Linked DNA regions of Homo sapiens: region 1 is linked to region 2. Evidence: fine-mapped expression QTL. Tissue or cell type: subcutaneous fat. Region 2 holds a variant in brackets; the other region holds the start of a gene. All regions are shown on one strand. Distances are between the middles of the regions. Region 1 holds the start of OSGIN2 (oxidative stress induced growth inhibitor family member 2). Region 2 has its middle 22 kb from the start of OSGIN2.

Region 1 (4,397 bases), 22 kb after region 2:
CTTGCACTCCCATGTTTATTGCAGCACTGTTCACAACAGCCAAGATTTGGAAACAACCTAAGTGTCCATCAATAGACAAATAAAGAAAATGTGGTTTATGTACACAACGTAGTAGCATTCAGCCATAAAAATGAATGAGATCCTGTTATTTTCAACAAAATGGATGCAACTGATGTCACTACTTTAAGTGAAATAGGCCAGGTACAGAATGACAAACTCTGCATGTTCTCACTTATTTGTGGGAGCTAAAAATTAAAACAACGGAACTAACAGAGAATAGAATGATGGTTACAAGGCTGGGCAGGGTAGTGGGGAATTAAGGGGCAGAGTGGGGATGGTTAATAGGTACAAAAGTATAGACAGAATTAGATCTAGTATTTGACAGCACGAGAGTGACTAGTCAACGATAATTCATTGAACATTTTAAAATAACTAAGTATAATTAGATTGTTTGTAGCACAAAGAAAGGATAAATATTTGAGGTGATGGATACTCCATGTACCCTGATGTGATTATTACTTATTGTATGCCTGTATCAAAATCTCATGTACCCCATAAATATATATACCATGTACTCACAAAAAATAAAAATTAAAAATTAAAAGAATTATCTGGATTGGACTGGCATAGCTTTCAGGAATTTATATGTTTATTTTTAATTTTTTTGGTTACATAGTAGGTGTATATATTTAAAAATACGGAACGCTTCACGAATTTGCGTGTTATCCTTGGGAAGGGGCCATGCTAATCTTTATATTATTCTAATTTTAGTATATGTGCTGCAGAATTAAGCACTGCTTTTAGGAATGTAGGTACTTTATTTATTTATTTTTGAGACGGAGTCTCGCTCTGTCGCCCAGGCTGGAGTGCAGTGGCGCGATCTTAGCTCACTGCAAGCTCCGCCTCCCGGGTTCACGCCATTCACCATGGTCTCGATCTCCTGACCTCGTGATCTGCCCGTCTCGGCCTCCCAAAGTGCTGGGATAACAAGCGTGAGCCACCGCGCCCGGCCAGGTACTTTATTATTATTTTTTGATACGGAGTCTCACTCTTTGGCCCAGGCTGAGTGCAGTGGCGCGATCTCAGCTCACTGCAACCTCCGCCTCCCGGTTTCAAGCGATTCTCCTGCATCAGGCTCTTGAGTAGCTGGGATTACAGGCGCGTGCCACCACGCCCGGGGCTAGGTTTTGTATTTTTAGTAGAAACGGGTTTCACCATGTTGGTCAGGCTGGTCTGGAACTTCTGACCTCAGGTGATCCGTCCGCCTCGGCCTTCCAAAAGGAATTTAGGTACTTTAAAATGCTGTTATGTATGTTAACGGAAAAGTAACTACATGCTTCATTTTCAGAACCAACATTCAAATGAAATGAACGTGTCAAATCGACAAAAGCTCAAAAAAGAGAAAAACATATAATACTTAAAAGTGGTTAATATACTCTTAGATTGCATAACTCTGGGGCAGTCTGAGTCCTATGATTTTCTTTTAAGACCCCAAGACTCTAAAATACCTGCTCATCACAAGTTTGTTCAGTGACAACATTCAGTAAAACTTAACATTTGTTTTACAAAATTATGTTGAAAGATATAAACATAAACGTATATTTGAAGCACAAAAATAATTACGGCTTTTTTTGGAAGCGGAGTTAGACATTTCCGTAGAAAAGTAGATGCAATCAATCTCTCCTGATTTTTGTCCTCCCCACCTTTAATTTTTGACAAACCGAATAACGACACTCACTATTGAGTACTTTTCTAACTCCCTATTGCATCACAAACGCCCGCAGGGGCTTAAAAAGCAGCAGGGGTTCCTGCCCTTCCCCACACTGGCCGGTGTGGTCTGGGGCGGGCCTGATGAGCACCTGGATTTTCACCCGGCGTGCTGGTAATTCCTACACTTGTGGGTGTTTGAGAGACATGAAGAGGGGAGGATGACCTCTTCCCGGAAGCGGGACTTCCATAAAAGAAGCGTGGTGGGCGGGTCCCGGGCACCTGTGGTTTGGTGAGTCCTCCAGGTAACTGTGATGCGGGGGTCAGCGGGAGAGGCACCCGGAAGCTCCCGGCGTCTGCACCCCGGCAGCGCGAGGAAATGCCCAAAGGTGGGTTCTCAGGCGTGGGAAGCTCGACCCTTCCCGGGGTCCTCGGCGAAGTGGCCGAGGCCGCGCCTTACGCAGGGAACTCCGCCGGGCCATCTGGGTGGCCCGAGTTCGCAGCAGCTTCTCTTCCGCTCGTCCCTCGGCCCTCTCGACGCGCACCCACCGGCCTCACCAAGTCGCACGCAGAGGGGCGGCGGGGCGCTGACCGAGGTCTAGGTCTCGATTGCCGCCGGTCGAGCCGCGCAGTTTGCCTGCAGACCTCGGTCCCCTGCCCGCGCAGCCTCGGCTCCATCAGGCCCGGCCCCTCGCCCGGGCCGTGGCTCCACCAATCGCAGACTTCGCCCGCCGCAGCCGCACCTGCGAGGAGGGGCCCGCGCGCCGCTGCAGCCGCCGTCGCAGCGTCCCCGCCCCGCTCCGCCCCTATCGCGGCGCCCCGAGATCACCCGCCTCCGGCGCCTGGCTCCCTGCAGGCGAGGAGCGGAAGCCGCTATCTGGAGGCGGACTCCGGCGCCACAGAGCCGGGGCAGCCGCGGCAACGGCGAGGCGCGAGGCAGGGGCGCCCGGCAGACCCCGCGACCCCGAGCCAGCGGGCGCCCCGAGCGGGCAGCCTCGCCGGGGGAGGCGGAGGCGGCCACGGCGGCCGCGCTCGGGCGCCCCTCGCGCAGCGCTCCATGCCCGTGTGGTGCTGCCGCTGCTCCCTGGCCGGTCATTTCAGGTGACTTCCTCGCCGGGGATGGGAGGGGAGCAGGCGGGGATGCCGCGCTCTCGAGCTTTTTGGCCTGGCCCGGGCCGGGACCGGGGTGGAGGGCGAGCGCCTGGACCGCAGCGTCCTCCCGCCTCGGCCGTCCTGCCTGGCGTGGGGGTGGGGTGGGGTGCGGTGTGGTGGGGTCCTTGCTCCGGGGAGCCCTGCGCTGTTCCCTTTTCTCGCTCTGGACCGCGCGGGTCACGGGACTGCGGGATCGGCTAGGCCGGACTGAGTCGGTTACGGCGAGCTGAGACTTCCCAGTAGTGCAAAGTTTTAGTGAAGGGGGTTCTACGAAGTGCCTGCCTCCCTAAAAAAAAATTATTTCTTAAAAAGTCTTCTAAATAATGTAATGAGTGGAAGGAAGGTAGGGAACTACATTTCAGTGTCATCTAATCACAAATAGATTCTGCCTTGTTAAGATGTTAGCCATGGTAAGACGTGTGTGTTGTAGAAATTTAAAGAATGAGGCGGTTTTACAATCACCTTATGGGGAAAGGTTTTAGGGGTGATAAAATATAATACATTTCTAAAATAAAAGTATGTTTTCTAGATCTAGCACATTTGGTCAACACCTCAGTCATTGGTGGAAAGACCAGACACTAGAAACTGATTTTAACCCTGGGGTGAAGAATGGTTAAGCATAGGGAATACTTTAGTACCTTGCTTTACATATACTGATGTTCCAGAATAATTCTATGTAAGACTTCTTCCCTGGTAAAATATGAAATTTTGATCAAGCCTTCCTAAATAGTGGGTTTCATACAATTTAGGTAACCCATGAACTTGGATGGAAAGAAAGGTATATCATTTCACTAAATTTTAAAAACTAATATTCAGTTAAAATATAAGCAACAAATCACAGTAGTATCTGTGACTGTCATCAGTAGAGATCATAAAATATGTTTATATCACATTGCAGTTAATATAGAAATACTGTTTATACTTATTCAAAATTATAGTAACACATCACTGAATTTATTGAATGCAACAGAGAAGCACATATATATATCGCGTTTACTTTTTATGACTGTTTTAATAGAATTAGTTTTCTTGTAAATCCTGTGTATATTTAAGAACAGTATTCAGAGAAGAGGTTAAGAAGCGTCATCCTATAGTAAAAGAGATGTAAGGCATAGAGAAAGTTTGGAACTTCTTTTGTAACAGCGATAATCCAAGCTTGTCTAACCTCTCAGTGAGTTTAGAATGAGTCTCTAGGTTGTGGATATTAAGGAAAAATTGTTTCATATAATAAACTGCTTGATTTTAACTTTTAGGCAAATTTGTTGACTACTGAGACAGCGGTTTGAAGGTATCAGATTCACTATGGAAACTTTTAGGAAATAGGTTCCCCTAGTGAAACTTGTTAAACTAAATAAAGCCCATGAGAATCTAACATGCCTTTCAGAAAATATTGTGTGAAAGCTATTTGACACCTTTTGATGCACAGTGTAGGATTCATATTCTTTTGACTAATACTGGGTGTTGAATACCATTTGCTTCCTGCCGTGCACAGAAATTTGGAGTAGGGAGTGAAAACAAAGTATTTGCTATGTTTTGGT
Region 2 (4,397 bases):
TTGCACCATCTCAGCTCACTGCAAACTTTGCCTCTTGTATTCAAGAAATTCTTGTGCCTCAGCCTCCTAAGTAACTGGGACTACAGGCGTGCACCACCACGCCTGGCTAATTTTGTATTTTTTGTAGAGATGGAATTTCACCATGTTGGCCAGGCTGCTCTCGAACTCCTGACCTCCAGTGATCCACCCACCCTGGCCTCCCAAAGTGCTGGAATTACAGGTATGAGCCATCACATCTGGACTCATTTTCTTTTCTTTTTTTTTTTTACAGAAATATATACCCTTTTTCTTAATTTTCTGTAATGACCATATATTACTTCTAAAGTAGAAATTTAAATATATTTTAATGGAAGAGGGTTATTAGCTTAAACATGTTTGAAAATTATAGAGAATAAATGTTTTTAAAAACATTCCAGGCTGGGCATGGTAGCTCACGCCTGTAATCCCAGCACTTTGGGAGGCTGAGGTGGGTGGATCACAAGGTCAAGAGACTGAGACCATCCTGGCCAACATGGTGAAACCCTGTCTCTACTAAAAGTACAAAAATTAGCTGGGCGTGGTGGTGCACGCCTATAATCCCAGCTACCTGGGAGGCTGAGGCAGGGGAATTGCTTGAACCTGGGAGGCGGAGGTTGCAGTGAGCGGAGATGGTGCCATAGCACTCCAGCCTGGCAACAGAGTGAGACGCTGTCTAAAAAAAAAAAAAAAAAAAAAAAAAAAAACCACTCCAGATGTTTGATAAACCCACAATGTCTCTTCCTAATAAAATTCATTTTTCAAGAATTGCTAAACTGGCCAGGTCAGTGGCTCACACCTGTAATCCCAATGCTTTGGGAGGCCAAGGCAGGAAGATCATTTGAGGCCAAGTGTTCTAGACCAGCCTGGGTAATGCAGTGAGACTCTGTCTCTACAAACATTTTTAAAAAAAAATTAGCCAGGCATATTGGTGTGTGCCTATAGTCCTAGCTACTCAAGAGGCTGAGGCAGGAGGATCACTTGAGCCTAGGAGTTTGAGGCTACTGTGTAGCCTGGGCAACAGAGTAAGATCCTGTCTCAAAAAAAACAAACAAAAACAAACAAACAAAAAAACAAGACAATAAAAAACAAACAACCCAATAATGGGCAAAAGATTTGAATACCCACTTCACTAAAGAAGATATATGAATTGCAAATAAACACATAAAAAGATGCTCGGCCAGGCGTGGTGGCTTATGCCTGTAATCCCAGCATTCTTGGAGGCCAAGGCGGGTGAATCACCAGCTCAGGAGTTCGAGACCAGCCTGGCCAACATGGTGAAACGCCGTCTCTACTAAAAATTGAAAAAATTAGCTGGGCGTAGTGGTGGGCGCCTGTAATCCCAGCTACTCTGGAGGCTGAGGCAGGAGAATCACCTGAACCCTGGAGGTGGAGGCTGCAGTGAGCCAAGATCGCACCACTGCACTCCAGCCCAGGTGACAGAGTGAGATCCATCTCAAAAACAAAACAAAACAAAAAGATGCTCAACAATATTAATAATTCATGAAAAGCAAATTAAAACCACAATGAGATGTCACTACATATCACCAGAATGTCTAAAATCAAAAGACTGACTAACATTAAGTGTTGGTGAGGATACTGAGTGACTGAAACTATCATGTATTGCATGTGAGGATGGAAAATGATACTGACACTTTGGAAAAGAGTTTGGAAGTTTCTTATATGGTAAACATACTCTCGGGTGATAACTCAGCATTCCCACCCTTAGGAATTTCCTCAAATAAAACAACATATATGTTTACCCAAAGACCTGTATACAAATGTTTAGTTTTTAAAATTTGTATTTATGAGAGCCCCAAACTGGAAACAACTCCAATGTCCTTTAACTGGTAAATGGGTTGTGGCAGTTCATATAATGGAATTCTATCTCATAATAAAAAGAAGGGCATTCCTGGGAAAGAGGATGCCTGGCACAAAGGCTCAAGACAAGAAATAGCTTGGTGTATTGATGTAACTACTAGGATTTCAGGGTTGCTGGAAGGTTGTGTAAGGGGGTAAGCCATTGTTAAAATAGACTACATACCTTGTAGAGTATGCTAAGGCATAGGGCTTGTATTTTTGGTGAAGGGTATAACTTCTACAACTGGATTTGGGCAGAATAAGATAAGCAGGTAGACACTGAGATAAACAGAAAAGAAAATATTTGTTCAACGAGCACGAGTTGGCATATTGTCAAAGAATCCTAACCTGTACAGGTAGGCTAGGACATCAAAGACAGGGAACAGTGACATCCTTTCGAATTTTCCAGAGACTGTGATTTACATACATAGGACAAGTAAGATCTACATGTGATTCTGTGTAATTTCTGCATGTTTGCATTAGATTTACAGTTTCTCTTTCAATGTTCAGGTTAACACATTATTAAAGTCAGAGTAGTGACTGTATAGACACTCAGAAATTCGATACTTTCCAAGTAATCAAAAGACTATTGAGGGAAAAAGAACATAATATTTTCTTCTGTCAATAGAGTTAATAGGCCAAGTGCAGTGGTTCACGCCTATAATCCTAGCACTTTGGGAGGCCAAAGTGGGCAGATCACTTGAGGTCAGGAGTTCGAGACCAGCCTGGCCAACATGGTGAAACCCCATCTCCACCAAAAATACAAAAATTAGCTGGGCGTGATGGCATGCGCCTGTAATCCCAGTTACTTGGG[A/T]GGCTGAGGCAGGAGAATTGCTTGACCCCAAGAGGCGGAGGTTGCAGTGAGCCGAGATTGCACCACTGCATTCCAGCCTGGGTGACAGAGCAAGACTCTGTCTCAAGACAAAAATAAAAAATAGAGTTAATAAAGTTTTAACGCTATTTTACTCCAGGTTTTGGCACTAAAATATATCTTCATAAGATGAAGCTAAGAAGCATAACACATTTCTATGTAAATGAATTACATAGAGTTTATAGGTCACCCTTCAATTTAAGAAATTTGTAGAACAAATAAAGCCCATTAGGATGGGTTGGCCATAGCTATAGGAGTGTCCCAGACAGAAATCTAAAATAGGAAGAAACTGGATCATGGTCACCAGGGAAAAGTTGGAACTAAAGAAGCTGAGGAGCTAGGGGAAGCAGCCATCAGAACTGTTCCCAGAAAGACAAGTTATAGTAATGGAGACTTCTTGCTACGTGCTGCCTTTACACCAAGTTTCCTTGGCAGTCCTGAGTGCTCTGCCTTGGTCTATAGCATCTGAATGGAATAACCAGAGGGCCATACTGGAAGGAAAGAATGCATATCTAAAGGAATGAATAAGTAGGGGACTGACGAGAGAGTGTAAGACAATGAATCAGTTCCAATGGGCTATACCACTTCTCTAAGAATATTTAACTAACTGGACTCATGTAACTTGTGGCCGTGACATGTATGTCTAAACTTAGCTCAAGCGTGGCTTTGTCCACCTTGTGTCCCAATTCTGGTAACTAGGCTTCTATTGAAAGCCAAAACTCTACTGTCCACTTTTACTTAATTCAGATTTAAAAATAGGCCTGCTTTGTTCCATGTGTCAGTGTCAAATGTATTGGTTTTCCTAATAGTTCAGCCTATCTAGAACTTTCTTGGCTTTTGCTAGTCCTACTCTTATGGAATGGAATTCTGACTCTGAGTAATGAATAATTAAATGTAAATGCTTCTGCTAAAGTGGTTTCATTGGCTGTTAACTAGATGCCAAATAATAATAAAGGTATTAAGTATTATGCATACCAGCAGTGAATTCAAGTTCAAAGTTCTGGCTTGAACCTTTTGGAAAAAAAATAATTTTACTGTGCCCGAGGAATGATGGTCATTTAGAAACCACATAATATTATTAGACTAAACTGAGCCAACTATTTCAAGGGGGGTGGGGAAAACGAAAAATTCTTTACTTATCATCACCTTTGTATCCATGATACAAGTAAATGTTATTATAGTGATAAGGAAATGATTAATAAATCCAATCAGAACTCCTAAGAAACAATAATATAATGAAAGATTAGAAAGACTTACAAATATTAAATAAATCAATGAATTGTAGGTTAACATGTCAACACAAGCTGATATTAGAAAGACCCCTTCCTCCCAATACAAACACATGGATCAAATATAATAATGGAAGATTTGGTTGTAATGTCAAGCTTGAAATTGACAGGAAAATCTCCAAACTAAATTCCCTGCATACAACCAGGAGTCGTAAGGGGCTGATCATCCCATGAAATGAAAGAAGCTCAGCCACTGACCCTGCCTAGGAAACTGTAAGGAAGCTTTGCCCTCTGTCTAAAATATTAGGTGGAAAAGAAGTCACCCACTGGAAGCCAGCACCTCCGCCTGCAGGTAACTGTGGAATGATCCTAAACTGAGATGTTTGCATTGTAACTGGTCCAGGTATGGCAAAATCCATCAG

What was found.
Region 1: OSGIN2 starts here. The variant in region 2 is fine-mapped to the expression of OSGIN2 in subcutaneous fat (GTEx, PIP 0.92).

What each region holds. Positions count from the first base shown.
Region 1 is chr8:89,900,030-89,904,426 of GRCh38, forward strand. OSGIN2 (oxidative stress induced growth inhibitor family member 2) reads left to right here and starts at 2,541. Exons shown (of 6, transcript NM_001126111.3): 1 at 2,541-2,808. The coding sequence starts at 2,765. It overlaps LOC124901974 (a long non-coding RNA gene), which reads right to left and starts at 2,377. Exons shown (of 2, transcript XR_007061001.1): 1 at 1,990-2,377. It also overlaps the pseudogene RNU6-925P. RefSeq lists enhancers at 420-1,185, 1,186-1,951 and silencers at 2,245-2,543, 2,293-2,632, 2,663-3,112, 4,106-4,165.
Region 2 is chr8:89,878,397-89,882,793 of GRCh38, forward strand. No RefSeq gene overlaps it. Among named protein-coding and RNA genes, the nearest start is that of OSGIN2, 22 kb to the right of the region's middle. The variant A/T (reference allele first, on the strand shown) is at 2,690.